Linked DNA regions of Homo sapiens: region 2 is linked to region 1. A link means that fine-mapping ties the variant in region 1 to the expression of a gene that starts in the linked region. Tissue or cell type: lung. Region 1 holds a variant in brackets; the other region holds the start of a gene. All regions are shown on one strand. Distances are between the middles of the regions.

What was found. PIP is the estimated chance that this variant, and not a neighbour inherited with it, causes the effect.
Region 2: PEMT starts here. The variant in region 1 is fine-mapped to the expression of PEMT in lung (TOPMed, PIP 0.94).

Annotation. Positions count from the first base shown.
Region 1 is chr17:17,512,054-17,520,153 of GRCh38, forward strand. It overlaps PEMT (phosphatidylethanolamine N-methyltransferase), which reads right to left. Exons shown (of 7, transcript NM_148172.3): 4 at 456-601. Among named protein-coding and RNA genes, the nearest start is that of RASD1, 20 kb to the left of the region's middle. RefSeq lists enhancers at 676-1,545, 1,546-2,415, 3,286-4,155, 5,026-5,895. The variant G/A (reference allele first, on the strand shown) is at 4,832.
Region 2 is chr17:17,588,598-17,596,697 of GRCh38, forward strand. It overlaps PEMT (phosphatidylethanolamine N-methyltransferase), which reads right to left and starts at 3,111. Exons shown (of 7, transcript NM_148172.3): 1 at 2,934-3,111. The coding sequence starts at 3,029. RefSeq lists enhancers at 2,556-3,297, 2,863-3,252.

The DNA of each region.
Region 1 (8,100 bases):
ACCACAATCCTGCCTGGCCTGAGAGCCACGCGTGCCGGGAGCTGCCAGAGAGGTGGCTGACTCACCACCACCTCAGGCTTCTGTGCAACAAGGCCTGAGAGTCTTCTGCAAGGGGGAGCTGGTGCTGGAGCTGGACTCAAGGAGTCCTGCACCCAGCCCGGGCCGCAGAACGGGCATTGAGTGCATCTTCATTAGCTGGAGAGAAGCAGCAGGAGCTGCCTTCACTCCCCAGGAGGCAGCCGCTCAGCACGCTGGGGTAAGAGGAGCTGTTGGAGCCCAGCCTCCTGTTCTAACCACAGACAAGCCAGGCCTGGAGGAGCAAAGACGCCCCGATGGAGGGGGCCCCTAGCACTCCCACCGATGTCACGGATAGCAGGGCAGCAGCCACCTGGCCCTGCACCTCCCTGGGGCTCCAGCGGTCCTGCTCAGGGTCACCCCAGCCCTCAGGGTCTTACCTAGGAAAGTTCCAGCGAACCCCAGTGCAAAGAAGCTGGAGAGCACGAGCACGACGCCCAGTCCCAGGAGCGCGAGGCCCAGGCTGTAGGCCGCGGGGGTGTCCAGGCTCTCCATCCTGGGCTGGCTCAGCATGGCCTGCGTGAAGCTGTGGGCAGGGGATGGAGAGGGAGGACGTCATGGCCAGGGAGGATGTCACAGCCCGGGAGGAGGCCGACCTCATCTTCTCGCCCTCTCCCCAGGGACCCTTAGAGAGTAGCCAGCCCAGGGCTGCCAGGCCAGGCAGGCAGCAGGTGGGGTCCAGTCCACCTGGGAGGTGGGTGACAGTAACAGGGAGGGGCCCAGGCCTGTCAGATTTTTAAATTTTTTCAAGAGAAGCCAGAAATCCTGACTCGTATGTGAAATATCCTAATTTTTAGAAATAGACAATTCATGAAAGCCACTTTAGACCCTGCATGTGAGCAGGCTGGATTCAGCCCGAAGGCCACCAGCTTGCAAACTCTCATCCTGTCCAATGAGCAACTCATACTATGGAGGAAAGTGAGGCTCAGGAAAGACGCAGGTGCCAGGTTGCAGGGCAGGCCCAGGTGTCCCATTCCCCAACAGACTCAGTGCCCCGAGGCCTGGGGCATGCTCTGTGCTAGGGATTGCGCTTCCACAGCCCCTGTGGGTCTGGCCACATCCTGGGTGGCTTGACTTGCATTTAAAGGCACTTTGGGGGCCCTTAATGTCCTCCTCCACACCTGAATTCCCCCACTAGGCTCCCTTTGGGGCCAAACCACTGAAGGCCTTGTAAAAAGGTAGTGGGGTCCAGGTGTGGTGGCTCACGCCTGCAATCCCAGCACTTTGGGAGGCCGAGGTGGGCGGGTCACCTGAGGTCAGGAGTTCAAGACCAGCCTGGCCAACATGGTGAAACCCTGTCTCTACCCAAAATACAAAAATTAGCTGGGTGTGGTGGTGGGCACCTGGAATCCCAGCTACTTGAGAGGCTGGGGCACAAGAATCGCTTGAACCCAGGAGGCGGAGTTTGCACACCACTGCACTCCAGCCTGGGCAATAGAGCGAGACTTAGTATCAAAAGAAAAAAGAAAAAAAGAAAAGGCAGTGGCGTGACCAAAAGGGGGTGACTATGACAGCAGTGGGTCTAGAGGCTCAGGTTCTCCAGTTGGCTCCGGAGAACTGAGGGGCTGGTGCAGGGAGGGCACAGGGGCTAGGCATGTGCTGATGTACCCAGGCCTCATCACAGGGGAGCGGGCGCTGGTGGGAAGGGGGCCCTGGGTGCTAGATGAGAGGCACACTCACAGGAAAGGCTGTGTGTGGGAGCACGGACATGTGTGACCAAATGTGCTCTTCCCATGCTCACAATAATCACAACACAGAAGAGACATGGAGATCTGCTACCTCACGCAGGGCAGCGCCTTTCACACCCAGTCTGTAGACGGCATCTCCCAGCAGGGCCAGCTTACCATCCACCCCACCACCCATCCTTCCTCCATCCATCTATCCTCTATGCACCCACACATCCATCCATCTGTCCAGCTATCCATCCTTCCATCCATCAATGTATCCTCTATCTGCCCACACAACCATCCATCCATCCACCATGAAGTATCTTTGTTTGCTAGGCTCTTTCAAGCAGATTGAAGCCCCCATCTTCATCCACTCGTTCCATTCATTGGTGAATTCAGATTGTTGTGAAACTCCTTATGCTGAGCTAAGGACATACAGACATGTCTTTATGCCTCCCTGGAACTCCTTCCTCCAGCTTGACTGGGAGCTCTTGGGGAACAGAAGTTGCTCCTCCTTCCCTGCGTATCCCCCCAGCACTTGGCCCAGGCCACAGAATGGATGTTTAGTGCATATTCATCGACTGGAGAGAAGCAGTAGCCGCTCCTTCCTTCTCCTCCCATCCCCAAGAGCAGAGAAGGAGCCAGGGAGAAAGGGAGAAGGGCCTGTGGACAAAGCCACCAGGACCCGGTGGCAGAGGCGGGCACACCGACCTGTTAAACAGCGGCATTCGGGTGTCAGGGCAAACCCACTGCCGGTCATGCTGCCCATACCCCCAGCTCTCCACCCACCAGTGCCCTGCCCTGATCCTGCTGCTGCCCGGGCTCAGGGTCACCCCGCAGCTCCAGGCCGAGCCTCTGGGATTGGCTCAGGGTCACGGGCTGCCATGGAATCAGGTGGCCACATGCACACCCAGTGTGGTGCCACGATCCAGGCACACCTTCTCCCCTGCCTGGCACCCTCCACTCTCCTGCCTGCAGATGGTGGAGTGGGAGGGAAAGGAAGGGTGCCGGCCCTGCTCAGGAGCATGGCTCCCCTGCAAGCATCTGGCTCCTTGGCTGCCACTGCAGTGGGGACCAGAAAACAGACAGGGGTTGGGAGGGGCGAACAGGGGAGAGCATTCCAGAAAGAGGAAATAGCAGGGAGGTGTGCCTTAGAGTCTGGGGCAGGGCATGGAGCAGGGAAGGTGCAGGCCTCGGCCCGGCAGGGTTTGGAATGCACTCTGCCTGCTGTGGAAAATGCAGAACCAGGGAGACCCATCCAGGTGCTGCAATAGGGGGTGGGCGCAGAGGCCAGGCCCGAGACGCTGGAGGGTCACTCTGGACGGAGACTCTGTCGCTCTTACCCCCTCCTGCGGAGACCCGAGCCAGGCCTGGGTCCATACCCCATGCTCAGGGTTCCTCTGCCAGAATTCATCTGCATCACACAAGCAGGCAGCAGATGAAAGGGAACTTCCTCCCTCTGGTGTGGCCCAAAAGCCCAGCTCATTCAGGGCCCAGCTTCCCTGGGGGCATGGCTCAGTAGGCAAATCAGATCTGCTTGGAAGCAGATTCCTGATGAAGGGCAGATCCGGGGCCAGGGAGCGGGTGGGAGAGGCCCCAGATTTGCCCCAGACCTGACCCTCAGTCCCCCAGCTGCTCCTCCGCCTACGGCCCCAGTCCTGGGGCCTTTCCTTTCCTTTCTCTGAGATGACAGCCTGGGCTGGCTCCTGGCACAATGCTCTGTGGGTCATTTGCTCAGAGTCGGCAGAGGAACTGGGCTGAGCTCCTCCCTGGCGTTCTCACCAAGTGGCCCCTTACCCAGTCAAATACACTCTGATTCTAGATTCCAGGTTTACTGGAATCTCATGGCCCGAATTAGGCAATCGACAGTGTTCTAGCTCCTCCATTAAGCCAGGAAAGCACAGTCCGTCCATTCCACAGGGAAAATTAGTGGATGGATGAGTAGCTCTGTGACCACAAGCTCCCTAACAGAATGAGGTAATATAGGACGCAATTTCCCTTGGAAGTATTCCGCACTAGGGGTGGGGAACGGAGACTCATTCATTTGCCTTGGGTTCTATTTTTAAGACCTGGATTGAACCTTCAGTCATTAATGTGATTTGAGGCTGTCTGCACTCTGCTCCCATAAAATCCCGGAAACCCTGGGGTGGAGGTGGGGAGGGGGCATCACTGCCCTCAGTGTCCCCGCCCTGTCCCCAGCCAGCAGTCCTGGGCCACACACCAGGCCAGAGGCACACGGCCCCACCTGGGACAGGCCTGTCCCGTTTCTATCTGCAGCCGACCAGAAACACTTCCCTGACTTTGATCATCCTGGGGTGTCTCCGCAACGTCGTCCACATCCATGTGTGGCCTGAGTGCCATGTACTCCACATCCTTCACCCCAGGCTTGGAGTGACTCGCTCTTTCCACTCCATCTCAGCTACACGACGCTAGCCATGAAATGAGTCGTCTGATGGGCTCATTTCTTTTCCAAGACATATTAAAATAAGCATGTAACTACTAAAACAAAAAATGTTCATCTATGCAACCCCCGAGACCATCAAAGGGCTTGAATTTCGGGCTTTGACGCTGCACTAATTCTGAGCATTTGAATAACACGTCACCTTTCCAAAGTGTTTCCAGAACCCATCAATAGCTGAGAGAGAGTCTGTCTTGTTTTACAAACAGGGAAGCAGATGGTAGAAAGCAGGAGGGGCAGGATGGCTCTCCTGCCTCCTCACGACCTGTAAACAGTGGGATAGGCTCAAGCCTCACGGGCAGGCCAAGGACAACAGGCAGCAGTATCCCAGCACCCCTAGCACCTGGGAATCCCAGGCTGACACCCACTCTCCTTCCAGACTTCCTGGCCGTGTGTGCTTTGGGGATGGGGAGGGTGCCTCTTCCCTCCTTCCCAGCCACAGCCCCTCAGGTGCCAGACCAGCCTGGTCTACCAGGGCCTGGACCCACTCTTGCCGAACTGCAGCCCCTCTCCCTCCTTCCTTCCCAGCAGCTGGGGGCCCTTGTGCCCAGGAAAGCCTATGCCAGCTTCCCTGTCCTAAGTGTCCCCCCACCCCTTACTCTCCAGCTGCCCTCATGGACCCCGCCCAGTG[G/A]CTACCCCAGGCACCTGCCTCGAGGAAATCACTCTGGTGAAGGGATTTCACAAATAGAATTCAGGTCCTAATCAGCTGGCCTTGAGTTAATCAAAAGGGAGGTGACCCTGGGTAGGCCTTTCCAAAAGGGTCTAGAAGCCAGAGAGACCAAAAGCCAAAGCCACAGAGCTGCCTGCTGTGCTGCGGGGAGGCCACCAGGAGCTGGGCCTCAAGGACCCGCGTCCTGCCAGCAACCCGAAAGAGTGGAGGACCACGCCTTGGGTGAGCTCACACCCAGCAGGCACCTTGATTCCAGCCTGGGGAGTCCCTAAGCAAAGACCCCGCCCCCGCATCCAGCCTCCTGGACACAGAAACTGTCACATAGTAAGTTTGTGTGGTTTAAGCCCTAAGTGTGTGGGAATTTGTTACACAGCAGAAGGAAACTAATACACTTGGCTTCCCAGTCCACAGACTCTTTAAAAATTCTGGCCTGTTCTGCCAAGACAGCAGGAGTCGCTTTTTTCTGCCATGGAACGCTGCACACGCCCAGCCCTCCATTGCTCCATCGGAAGCAAACTGTCCCATCAGCTCCATGCCCTCCCTCCTTCATGCAGCCGCTCAACCCCCGGCCTGTCCTGACCACATCCTTGAGCAGGTCCGGCCAGGCACTGGGTGGGATGCAGCAGTGACCAGGACATGTAGTCACCAGGACAGAGGGCCACCTGTGCCAGCCTCCTCCAGGGCCACAGTCCCCAAAGGCCTGGCCTCAGAATCATCAGGGAGTTTTTGAAAACAGACTTCCCTAGGGGAGAGGGGCTCTGGGGTGAGTCTGGTGTCCCACAGGGTTGCACCTGCCCCACGGCCTCTAGTATACAGAGCGCTGAGGTGAGTCCCCACCTGCCCTGCCCCTGCTGCCCAGCCTGTGAGTGGGGGCCGCCCTCTCCTGGGACTCATGGGCCCTGCCCAGCCATCTGAAGAGCCGGCTCACTCCTCCAGGCCTTGGTCGTAAGGCTTCTTCAGCCAGGGCTCCGCCTGCACCCCACCCACCCAGACCACCTTCCAGAGACCACCCTGCCCCTCCAGGTGCCTCCTAGCCCAGCCTGGGAATACCTCCAGGTTGAGGAAGATTCCTGATCGACAGCCACACTCCGAGGCCAGGATGCAGCTTCTTAGCCTGGCTGTGCCCGCCACACCAGAGCACACAGGAGCCTCTCCCCTCAGAAGACCCAGAGGGAGCCCTGGGAGACTCCAGGCAATTCCGATGTGCGCTGGAGCACAGTTCCATCCCGTGACTGGTGAACGACACCAGGAGCTCGCTGATGCCCTAACAAGCTCGGCTGTCTCCTCCCACAGCCAGGAGGGAGGAAGGGCTGCAGCCCAGTCCTGTGAAGCCCGTTCGAGCCCTGCCTGGCCATCCACGCCTCGCCCACCCCCGTGGGCTTTCTCGAGACCAGCCTTGTGGCTCATCAGAGGGTAGCGGTCCAGCCAAAGCTGGCCAAGTTCAGCTGTGCAGGGGGCAGCTCAGGCAAGGGACTTCAACAAGTGCCCCGGAGCCCATCAGCCTTCCTCCCCATTCACACTCCACAGCCAGAGCAAACAGGTCTGTGCTAATGGCCCCTTCGGGACTGGATGGAGCACACCTGCTTCCAGATAACAGTGGCTCATCCTGCCCCGGGCCTCCCCTGACCACCTCTGGATGCACTGCTGGTGCAGACCTGCTAACATAGTGACCTACTCTCCCCTGGGACCCGCTGGCAGGTCAGCTGCTGGTGGCCTCTCGGACATCCCATCCATGACCCAGGCTTGGCTCAAGCACGTGCCTGTGTTCTCTGCCCACCAACCGACTCCTGCTGGGTGCAGAGGCTTTTGAGCACAGCCTGGACCCCACAAAGCTTGCCATCTCCCATGGAGAACGATGCCACACCCCAAAGGTCCAGAACAGGCACACTCATGGGGACAGAAAGCAGACGAGTGCTGCCAGGGACTGGGGGGCGGGAGATGACTGCTCCAGGCCTATAGGGTGAGGAAAAAGCTCCGAAACTAGTCAGGAGGAAGGGCTGCACAACATCGGGAAGCTGCTAAATGTCACTGAATTGTAAAGCTTAAAATGGTTCATAACAGTTTATGTTATGTCTATTTTACTGCACAAAAAAGAATACCCACCTCTAGACAGCCACTGAAGCGAGGCATGCATGGGAAAGGGTGTGGGGGTGTGGGGTATGCAGGAGCTGGTCCCGAGGGTCCTGTCAGAGCCTGGCCCAACAGCCCGGTCCGGCTCCAGCACCTGCCACCTGTGTGCCTCACACTGGCAGGTGTGGGCGGGAAGGATGGGTCACCAGGGACATGGCAGGATAGGGTGCAGGCAGGGGCCTGGAGGGGAAGAACAGTGGGGGAGAGAGTGAGGACCAGGGCACACCTCTGCCTCTGAACACAAAAGGTGAGAGGAGAAAAGCAGCCCAGGACATCCTTTCTCTCCTCCCCAAAATCCAGGGGTGGCCAGTTCAACCAAAAGTCATGGCCCTGCTGGCTGGGCAGATGCCAGGTGAGGCCAACGCTGATATGAGAGGAGGGAAAGCTGGGAGCCACCATCTGTAAGAAGCTGACTTCCTCCAGCTACCCCAGGAGGACTCCCAGGCCCCGGGATCCAAGAACAAACCAGACAGTGCTTTGCTGCTGTCTACGGCTGGAACTGGGCTGTGGGTGGGCCTGTCCCCCTGGTCTCCTAGGTACACACAGCACTCGGCTGGGGCCTGGAGGAGGAAGGATGACCCCTTCCAGGGCCCTCTACTCTCTGCCTTGAAAAGGGGTGGATGACGGGGGCAGACCTCCAGGGTCAGGCAGATCACAGGCTGTGCTGCTGGACCAGCAGGGAGGTGATGGGGAGGACTCAAGGAAGCCTCTGGGGTTTCTAGTGCAAGATGAGATTGCGCAGGAAATCAGAACTCAGCAGAGACTCAGAGCAGCTCCCGGGGCAGGGCTGGCAGGAGGGGCTCCATCAAGGCAGCTGCCTTGTGGCGCTGGCCGGTGTTTCTGGGCAGTCACCTGGCCTGGTCTAGCTGCTCCTGGATCTGTGTGCGCTGTGGGCTGCAGCCCACTTCTCCTGCTTTGTGCCGGCCCTGATGGTGGTCCCGGCATGCTCTAGGGAGCAGGAGTGGTGGAACAGCTCAGCGTGCCAGCCCTGGGCTGAGTCTCAACCCTCTGCAGCCCTCCACCTGTCTTCAGCCTCGCTGTTCCTGTGGGGGGACTCCAAGCTCTGAGCGTTCAGTCGGCCAGCACCAGCCCCCTCCCTC
Region 2 (8,100 bases), 77 kb after region 1:
ACATCATCACTCACCCGCTCTGGTGAGCAGGTGATTCGCTATGGAAAAGGGACCTGAGACCTGGGCATGTGCCCTTGCTCTGAGGACCTCAGTGTGCTCTGCCAGCCTGGGTGCCCGCACCCCTAGGCCCTACTGGAGTCATCTTCTGAATCCTGGAGGTGCCCCGGCCTGTGGACAGCAAGATGCAGACCCTGCTCTCATCCATCTGCCACCCCACTGCCTTCAGGCAGCTGCCCAGCTGAGGAGCAAGGCTCCAGAATCCTGACAGGGAGGGCAACAAGGAGCAAAAGGGCCTTAGTCAGTGGGGCTGCAGCGGGCACACTCCTCACCCTAACTCCTCAGCCCAATGGCTGATTCTTTGGGTTGTTTGTTTTTGTTTTGAGACAGAGTTTCGCTCTTCTAGCCCAGGCTGGAGTGCAATGGCGTGATATCAGCTCACTGCAACCTCCACCTACGGGGTTCAAGTGATTCTCCTGCCTCAGCCTCCCGAGTAGCTGGGATTACAGGCATGTGCCGCCACGCCTGGCTAACTTTTTATATTTTTAGTAGAGATGGGATTTCTCCATGTTGGTCAGGCTGGTCTCAAACTCCCGACCTCAGGTGATCCACCTGCTTTGGCCTCCCAGAGTGCTGGGATTACAGGCGTGAGCCACCGTGCCCAGCCCCAACAGCTGATTTTTTTTTTTTTTTTTTTAAAAACAAAAGCAAGATTCTGTACCTGCTGAAGCAGGCCCAGAAAAGAGCTGGTGGAGGGCATGGTACCCAGAGCAGCACTGTTTGGTATGACATGGCAGCCACTGGTCACAGGCAGTGCCACAAGCTTGGAATGCCACAGGACAAAATATGTCTGATATATATTTTGGTAACAATAAAATATATTGTCAAAATTATTTTTCTATTTCTTTGCTATTTTCCATTTCTTCTCACTAATTTAACATGGCTACTAGAAAGGTTTAAATTATGCATGTGGCACACGATGTTTCTACTGGACAGCACAGCAGCACAGGGCTAGCACCGGAGATCCTGCAGCTCAGACGCCCATGGGGTGAACAAAAACCTTGCAACTCTCCCAGGCCAGGGACTGACATATTTTAAAACCGGAGATTTTGATTGAGGAGGGAGTAGAGCTACCACATAAGCAAATATGTAATGTTGTATGTTGTATGTTTCTTTCTTTCTTTCTTTAAGAAAAATCCCTTGGCAACAGGAAGCTTAACTGCACCAACAAGGACAGCAGAAGAAAAGCAGAATGTTAGTCAACAAGGGTCACCCTGACCCGAACCCCAGCCCCAGCTCTCTCCAGCTGCACAGCCCTGGGGAGAAAGGAGAAAGAGCAGAGAAGCCCACCCCTCACACACCCGGTTAGTCTCCCCTGCCCACTGGCAGGCCCTGGGGCAGGCCCCTAGATGGGTCTGCAAAGGGACACTGCCCCCTTGCATTCTGCCCCCCCTTCTACATGGCTCCCCCACCCACCCTTCTACACGGTGGCTTCTGAGGGCAGCCCCTGGAGGTGATCATGACCCCCCATCTTGATCTGAGGATTAACAGATACAGGTTCACCTGGTGAAAATGCAGGAGCTGTAGGGGTAGGACCCATCACTCATCTGACTGCATGTTGTAATTCAATGGACAGTTTACTAAAGTAATAGTCTTCTTCCTGTCCTCTGCTGAGCACCCATCTGGCCAACGGTCCTGCGCTCCCTCAGGGCCAGCGGCCCATCTCCTCCTGTGCCTCCTGGAGGGCTTCGCAACTGCCTCCCTCCTCTGGGGAATCTTGCCCCACTGACTGACCTTTCGGCTCTCAGATCCCAGGTCCCTCCCTCGCAGATACGGCAACAGGCTCTCTTGGGATTTCAATCCCGCCTTCCCATCAGCTACTCTTCAAAACACTAACTGGTATTAGCTCCTTCAGAGAACTCTCTGGCTTTCCAGGCCTACAATCTCCCTCCCTAGAATGAAAGCTCAGTGACAGAAGTGCCCTTAAACTTCTGAGTGACACGAGGCCCTCAGCCGGCCCTGAATCAATACTGGCTGGATCAGTGAGTGAATAAATGCACATGTGAGTAAGGAATGAAGGGAGCGAAAGAACTGGATTAGAAGCTGCTTGGGGCAGAGATGTGCCTTACAGGCTTCATGAAGAGTGGGTGATGAAAAAGGTAAATGGAGCATCTAAGAGGAAGCTTTGATAGAAGGGAGAATGCAAGAGAGGTTGGAAATTGGAATCCATTGGAATTGGGAGCCTGGGGAGATGCCAGGACAGGCACTCTCTGGCCTAGGACTCTGCAGAGGGCAGCCTCAGCAGGCAAGCCAGGCCCCCAGCTTCTGGGGCCGGTCGCACCCATTATGGCCCCGAAACGGCTGGGTGGTGGTCTGCAGCCTGCCCAGGGCCGGCTGGGAGACAGGCAGGGTCCCCACCACTCTCTTGCCTCTGGGCAAAAGCTGGCCTCCTGACCCTGGGGGATGGACGGGAGCAGGGGCCACACAACACACTCCCAAACATATAATCGGCCTCCTTCACCCTCGCCCACGCTCAGTCACACACAGCCTCGGTCATACACACTCACACTCACTCTCCGGCACACTCTCAGAGCATCACATAATTTCAGTGAGACACAATCCCAAAGACTAACACGGACAACCTCTGAGTCTCACACAATCTCAGGGCCACACACAGGCACACAATCAGACGAGCTCAGGAACGCCCCCGTCTCTGACACACGCAATCTGAGGTTTACACGCGCGCGCACACGCACACACACAGACACCAGCCGGCGCTCCCGCACGCGGCTCCCCCACCCCCGCCACGCCACGCCCCCATTGCCTGGGAACTGGCGGCCCCGCCCCGCAGCGTTTGAGGCGCCGCAAGCCTTCACGCCCCTCGGGCCTTGCAGATCCCTCTCCCAGTTTCCGCGGCGGTCCGGTGCGGTCAGTACCTGTCTAAAATCAATATTGCCGAGGCCTCCGCAGCAGTCAGGCCCTGCCACCGAGCTGTTCGTTACCTCGGCTCCCGGGTTCCCAGATCTCTTCATCCGGGGGCCGCCTCAGGAGGCACCACGCGGGCCCCGCTGCAGCCACGCGCCCCCGGAACCGGACCTATAGAGCCGGGTAAGTGCCGCCAGTCGGGGCGCTTTCCCGGTGACCCCCAACATATTCCGGCCTTCTGGGAAATGTAGTTCCCCGTCACCGCGAAGTGCCTCTTTATCTGGGGGCTCGCGACAGCGTCTAGAGGAGCCGAGAACTACAAGTCCCAGTGTGTTTCGCCGCAGAGCCTGCCGGTTCCGCTGCAGCTACGTAGCAGTATCCCCTTGGATCCGGCCTCCCGCCCAGTGCCTTTGGTCGCCGGCTGCCGCACCCGAGCCTGTAACTGACCTGGCGTCCCTGCCCTTGCCTGGCGGCGGTGGGGCTAGAGGCCGGGGGCCGCGGGTCGTAGCTATAAGCAGCTTCCCGCGCAGCCTCCTGCGGACTTGGACTTGGCCCGGGTCACACACGCCCAGGGCCCCACACGCCCAGGGCCCCACGCCCTCTTCTGAAATTCGCTTTACTCTGGGGGCGGTGCGCGACGAGCACTGCCTAGAGCTTCCCGCCCCCGCGGCGCCCAGGCTCTTTAGCTCGGCCAAAGACCCCTCCTCCACTCATTTTTTCCTTCATTCATTCTCTCATTCACTCTCGAGTATTTTCTGAACCAGACTGTGCGCTGAGGGTACGGTAGGGAACAACACAGAGTCCCCCGCCCTCGCTTCCTCCTGACTGAGATAAAAGACAAAATGTGAATAAAGGGTTATAATATGGATGAGTACTGTGGTGGAAAAAACGGGGTGGGTCAAATGGTACGGAAGGATGCTGTCTTAGAATGTGCAGGGGAGGTGCCAGATGTGCCAAGTGTGAGGGCAGGGCAAACAAGGCAAGACGAATGGTATGTACAAAGGCCTGGAGACAGGACGGGCACCTAAGGAACAGAGAAAAGACCGGTGAGCTGTGGAGTAGTGATGGAGGGGGTCAAATGGAGAAGAGTTTAGACGATCGGGTCCCAGAAGAACCCCTTTTGTAGGCCGGGTGTGGTGGCTCATGCCTGTAATCCCAGCACTTTGGGAGGCCGAGGTGGGCGGATCACCAGAGGTCGGCAGTTCGAGACCAGCGTGACTAACACGGTGAAACCCCGTCTCTATTAAAAATACAAAAAATAGCCGGGTGTGGTGCGCGCACCTGTAATCCCAGCTACTCAGGAGGCTGAGGCAGGAGAATCGCTTGAACCCAGGAGGTGGAGGTTGCAGTGAGCGGAGATGGTGCCATTGCATGCCAGCCTGCGCGACAGAGCGAGACTCCCTCTCAAAAAAGAAAAAAGCCCTTTTGTAGCCAGGTGTTATGTAATATGGGGAAATAGACTGAGAGGTTCCAAGATTTGCTCAGTCACCCAGACTGCTGGGGGCCCAGACAGGACTTCTGCAGTCAGCTGCTTCCTGCTCCAGATGGCCCGTTTCTCTCCACCTTGGCCCACAGCACCTACCAGTGTTGAGCATTTACTGAGCAGCCACTGTGTGCTGCTTTAGAGGTAGTCCCAATCTTCACAACATCGCTAGGATGGGGCAGGCCAACCGAGGAGACAGGAAAGACACTGGCTTTGGAGCATGCACTATCTCTGTGACTGAGCCCACCTTCATTTTCCTCAAAAGTAAAAGGGAAATACATGTTGGTAAAACTCATCACCCAGGAACTGGCCTGTGGGAAGTGCTCAGTAGGCATTGGCCCCCGGCAGGGCTGGGGACACAGGCTCAGGGCTGGTTCTCTGACTTACCACTGTTACTAATGAGTGTCGGGACCCTTTCCCTGCTCAGTGTCCAGGCAGAGCTGCTAGAGGCAGAGCCATTTCTGAAGGAGCCCCCCGCAGCGGGAGGGCTTCTAGCAAGTCTTTCCCCTCCGCCTACCACACATCCACTTCACTGATGTTCCAGTCTTCTGACCTAACTGGTCACTCCTGTTTTGTTAAGCCCAGAAAACAAATTTTTGTGCGTTTGCTTTATCTGAGAACAAAGTAAGGCAACCGTAAGAGGTCACACCAGAACTGATGCAGTCCGATCCTCTACTCCAGCCTACCCAACCTGGGCCACCCTTCCTCTGTGAAAAGCAAACACCCCACCCAGGAGACAGACTTGCAGCTTGAAACAAGTCAGATAAAAACCTCCTGCCTGGCTCACACCTGGAATCCCAGCACTTTGGGAGGCCGAGGCAGGCGGATCATGAGGTCAGGAGTTCAAGACCAGCCTGACCAACACAGTGAAACCCCGTCTCCACTAAAAATACAAAAATTAGCTAGGCATGGTGGTGCACACTTGTAATCCCAGCTACTCAGGAGGCTGAGTCAGGAGAATTGCTTGAACCCAGGAGGTGGAGGCTGCAGTGAGCCGAGATCGCGCCACTGCACTCCAGCCTGGGCCAGGCTGGGCATGGTGGCTCACGCCTGGAATCCCAGCACTTTGGGAGGCCAAGGCGGGCAGATCACGAGGTCAGGAGTTCGAGACCAGCCTGGCCAGCATGGTGAAACCCCGTCTCTACTAAAAATACAAAAATTAGCCAGGCATGGTGGTGCACACCTGTGATCCTAGCTACTAAGGAGGCTGAGGCAGGAGAATCACTTGAACCTGGGAGGTGGAGGTTGCAGTGAGCCGAGATTGCACCACTGCACTCCAGCCTGGGCGACAGAGATTCCATCTAAAAAAATAAAAATAAAAAACCCTGCCAAAGATACTTTGGGGCACAAGTACTTGCCTGAGCCTTTCAAAAGTTCCCAAGTCTGAGAGCTTGTAGAGAAATTATCCAGGCCAACCTCCCTCACTGAAACATTCCTTCTGTGGCATCTTGGGCAAATGGAAAAGTTGGTTCTGCTTACGTGCCGCCAGTGATGAGAGGTTCCCCACCTCTTGAGGTCGCCCGCTCCACTGATGGACAGGGGTCCATTAACCCAAAGTCATGATACCCATTAACCCAAAGTCACCCTTCCTGAAGCTTTAACAAACAAAAGTTCCTTTCTACCTTCAGGGTTATCTCTCTTTGCCCCTTGATTGAGCTCTTCAGATATAGGAAACCATTTATCATGGAACAGCTCCCAGGGCAAACCTCCTGATGGCCTCTCTTTTCTCTAACCCCACCTCCCTGGCTCCTGAATTATGAATCAGGCTGCAGAAACTCCCAGCAATCATTAAAATGGGGTTTTAGTGCTAAAATTAACATGTGTTTATTGGGTGCCTTTGGGTAAAACCTAAACCTTTCCCTACTCTGAATCTATTTTCTGTTCATAAAACATAATAATATTTATATCATAGAATATCTCTTGAGTATAATATCTCGAGTGAGGCTGTTGTGAGGATTAGAGGTAATAACTCGTACAAAAGTGCCTGGCATACAGTGGGTTCTAAGAAAATGTCCAGGCCAGGCGCAGTGGTTCATGCCTGTAATCTCAGCACTCTGGGAGGCCAAGGCAGGCAGATTGCATGAGCCCAGGAATTCGAGACAAGCCTGGGCAACATGGCAAAACCCCATCTCTACAAAAAAAAATACCAAAAAAAAATTAGCCGGGTGTGGTGCACGTGCCTGTACTCCCAGCTACTCGGGAAACTAAAGCGGCAGGATCACTTGAGCCCAGGAGAGAGAGACTTCAGGGAGCTGTGATTGTGCCACTGTACTCCAGCCTAAGTGACGAGAGTGAGACCCTGTCTCCAAAAAAAAAGAAAGAAAAAAATGTTTCTCTCCTTTCTATATAATTGAGATCTGGTGGTTAAGGTCACACTCATGGACATGCTGCTGGGATTTAGGACACCACTGGGGGCCAGGAGAGCTGGCTGACAGCTCAGGGACCTGCCAGAGTTCCTGGGAGGAGATGGGTGGGCAGGGGCCAGGATGGGTGGCCAGAGCTGCTCCCCAGACAGCAGGTACTGCAGGTTATCAGAAACCATATTGTCACTGGGAGTGCTTTAAAACCAGGAAGGTGGTGAGGGGCTGTGGCCGCAATGCCCAGCACCCACTTCATAGACTCAGGCCTGATTGCCCTCATTCTACCCCTGGTGGCTCCAGGAACAAGAGGGTAGCCAGGGTGGGAACTGGGGCAGGGGAGAGGTCATCTGGAGATGTGTGCCCTGATCACGAGTTCCCTCCCCACTCCCATCTGCCCTGAGCTTTGGAAGAAGCCCCTTCCCCAAGGACCTACTACTTGCTGGGAAGAGGGCACGGGAGTGAAGTTACCTGAACCCAGTTGTCCACAGCCTAGGCCAGCCTGGGAAACACCAGCAAGGATGTTGGTGCTGGCAGGGCCTCACTGCCCCTCAGTGTCCACAGTGTCCACAGAGCACAAACCCCTGCCTTCCAGCTGGCCTCCAGAGGTCCTAAACACCCCAGGTATACACCCACCACAGGGCATTTTCATGTGCTATGTCCTCCGCCTGGGTTGCTCTTCCCCGCATTTCCTCCCAGTACCCTCCTCACCTCCTCTGGGTTCTGCTCAAGTTCCACCTCTCCACCCTGTTGAACATGCTGACTTCCCCATGCTCGCCATGGGCCTCTCCCAACTTTATTTCTCTCCATTGGCCATATCATTTAACAAATGTATTTAGTGCACTTATTTATTTTGTATAGTGTCATTCCCTGTCCATCCCCTATCCCCTATAAGGGGAACTTCACCAGGGCAGAGATTTTTTGTTTGTTTGTTTTTTGAGACGGAGTCTTGCTCTGTCGCCCAGGCTAGAGTGCAGTGACGTGATCTCGGCTCACTGCAACCTCTGCCTCCCGGGTTCCAGCAATTGTCCTGCCTCAGCCTCTGGAGTAGCTGGGACTACAGGTGCGCACCACCACACCCAGCTAATTTTTCTATTTTTTAGTAGAGACAGGGTTTCACTATATTGGCCAGGCTGGTCTCAAACTCCTGACATCAGGTGATCCACCTGCCTCAGCCTCCCAAAGTGCTGGGATTACAGGCATAAGCCACCACCCCTGGCTTTTTTTTTTTTTTTTAAGAGACCCCTGGGTTTAAAATCCTGGGCCCAAGCGATCCTCCTGACTCAGTCTCCGGAATAGCTGAGACTACAAGTGCATGCCACCATGCCCGGCTAAGGG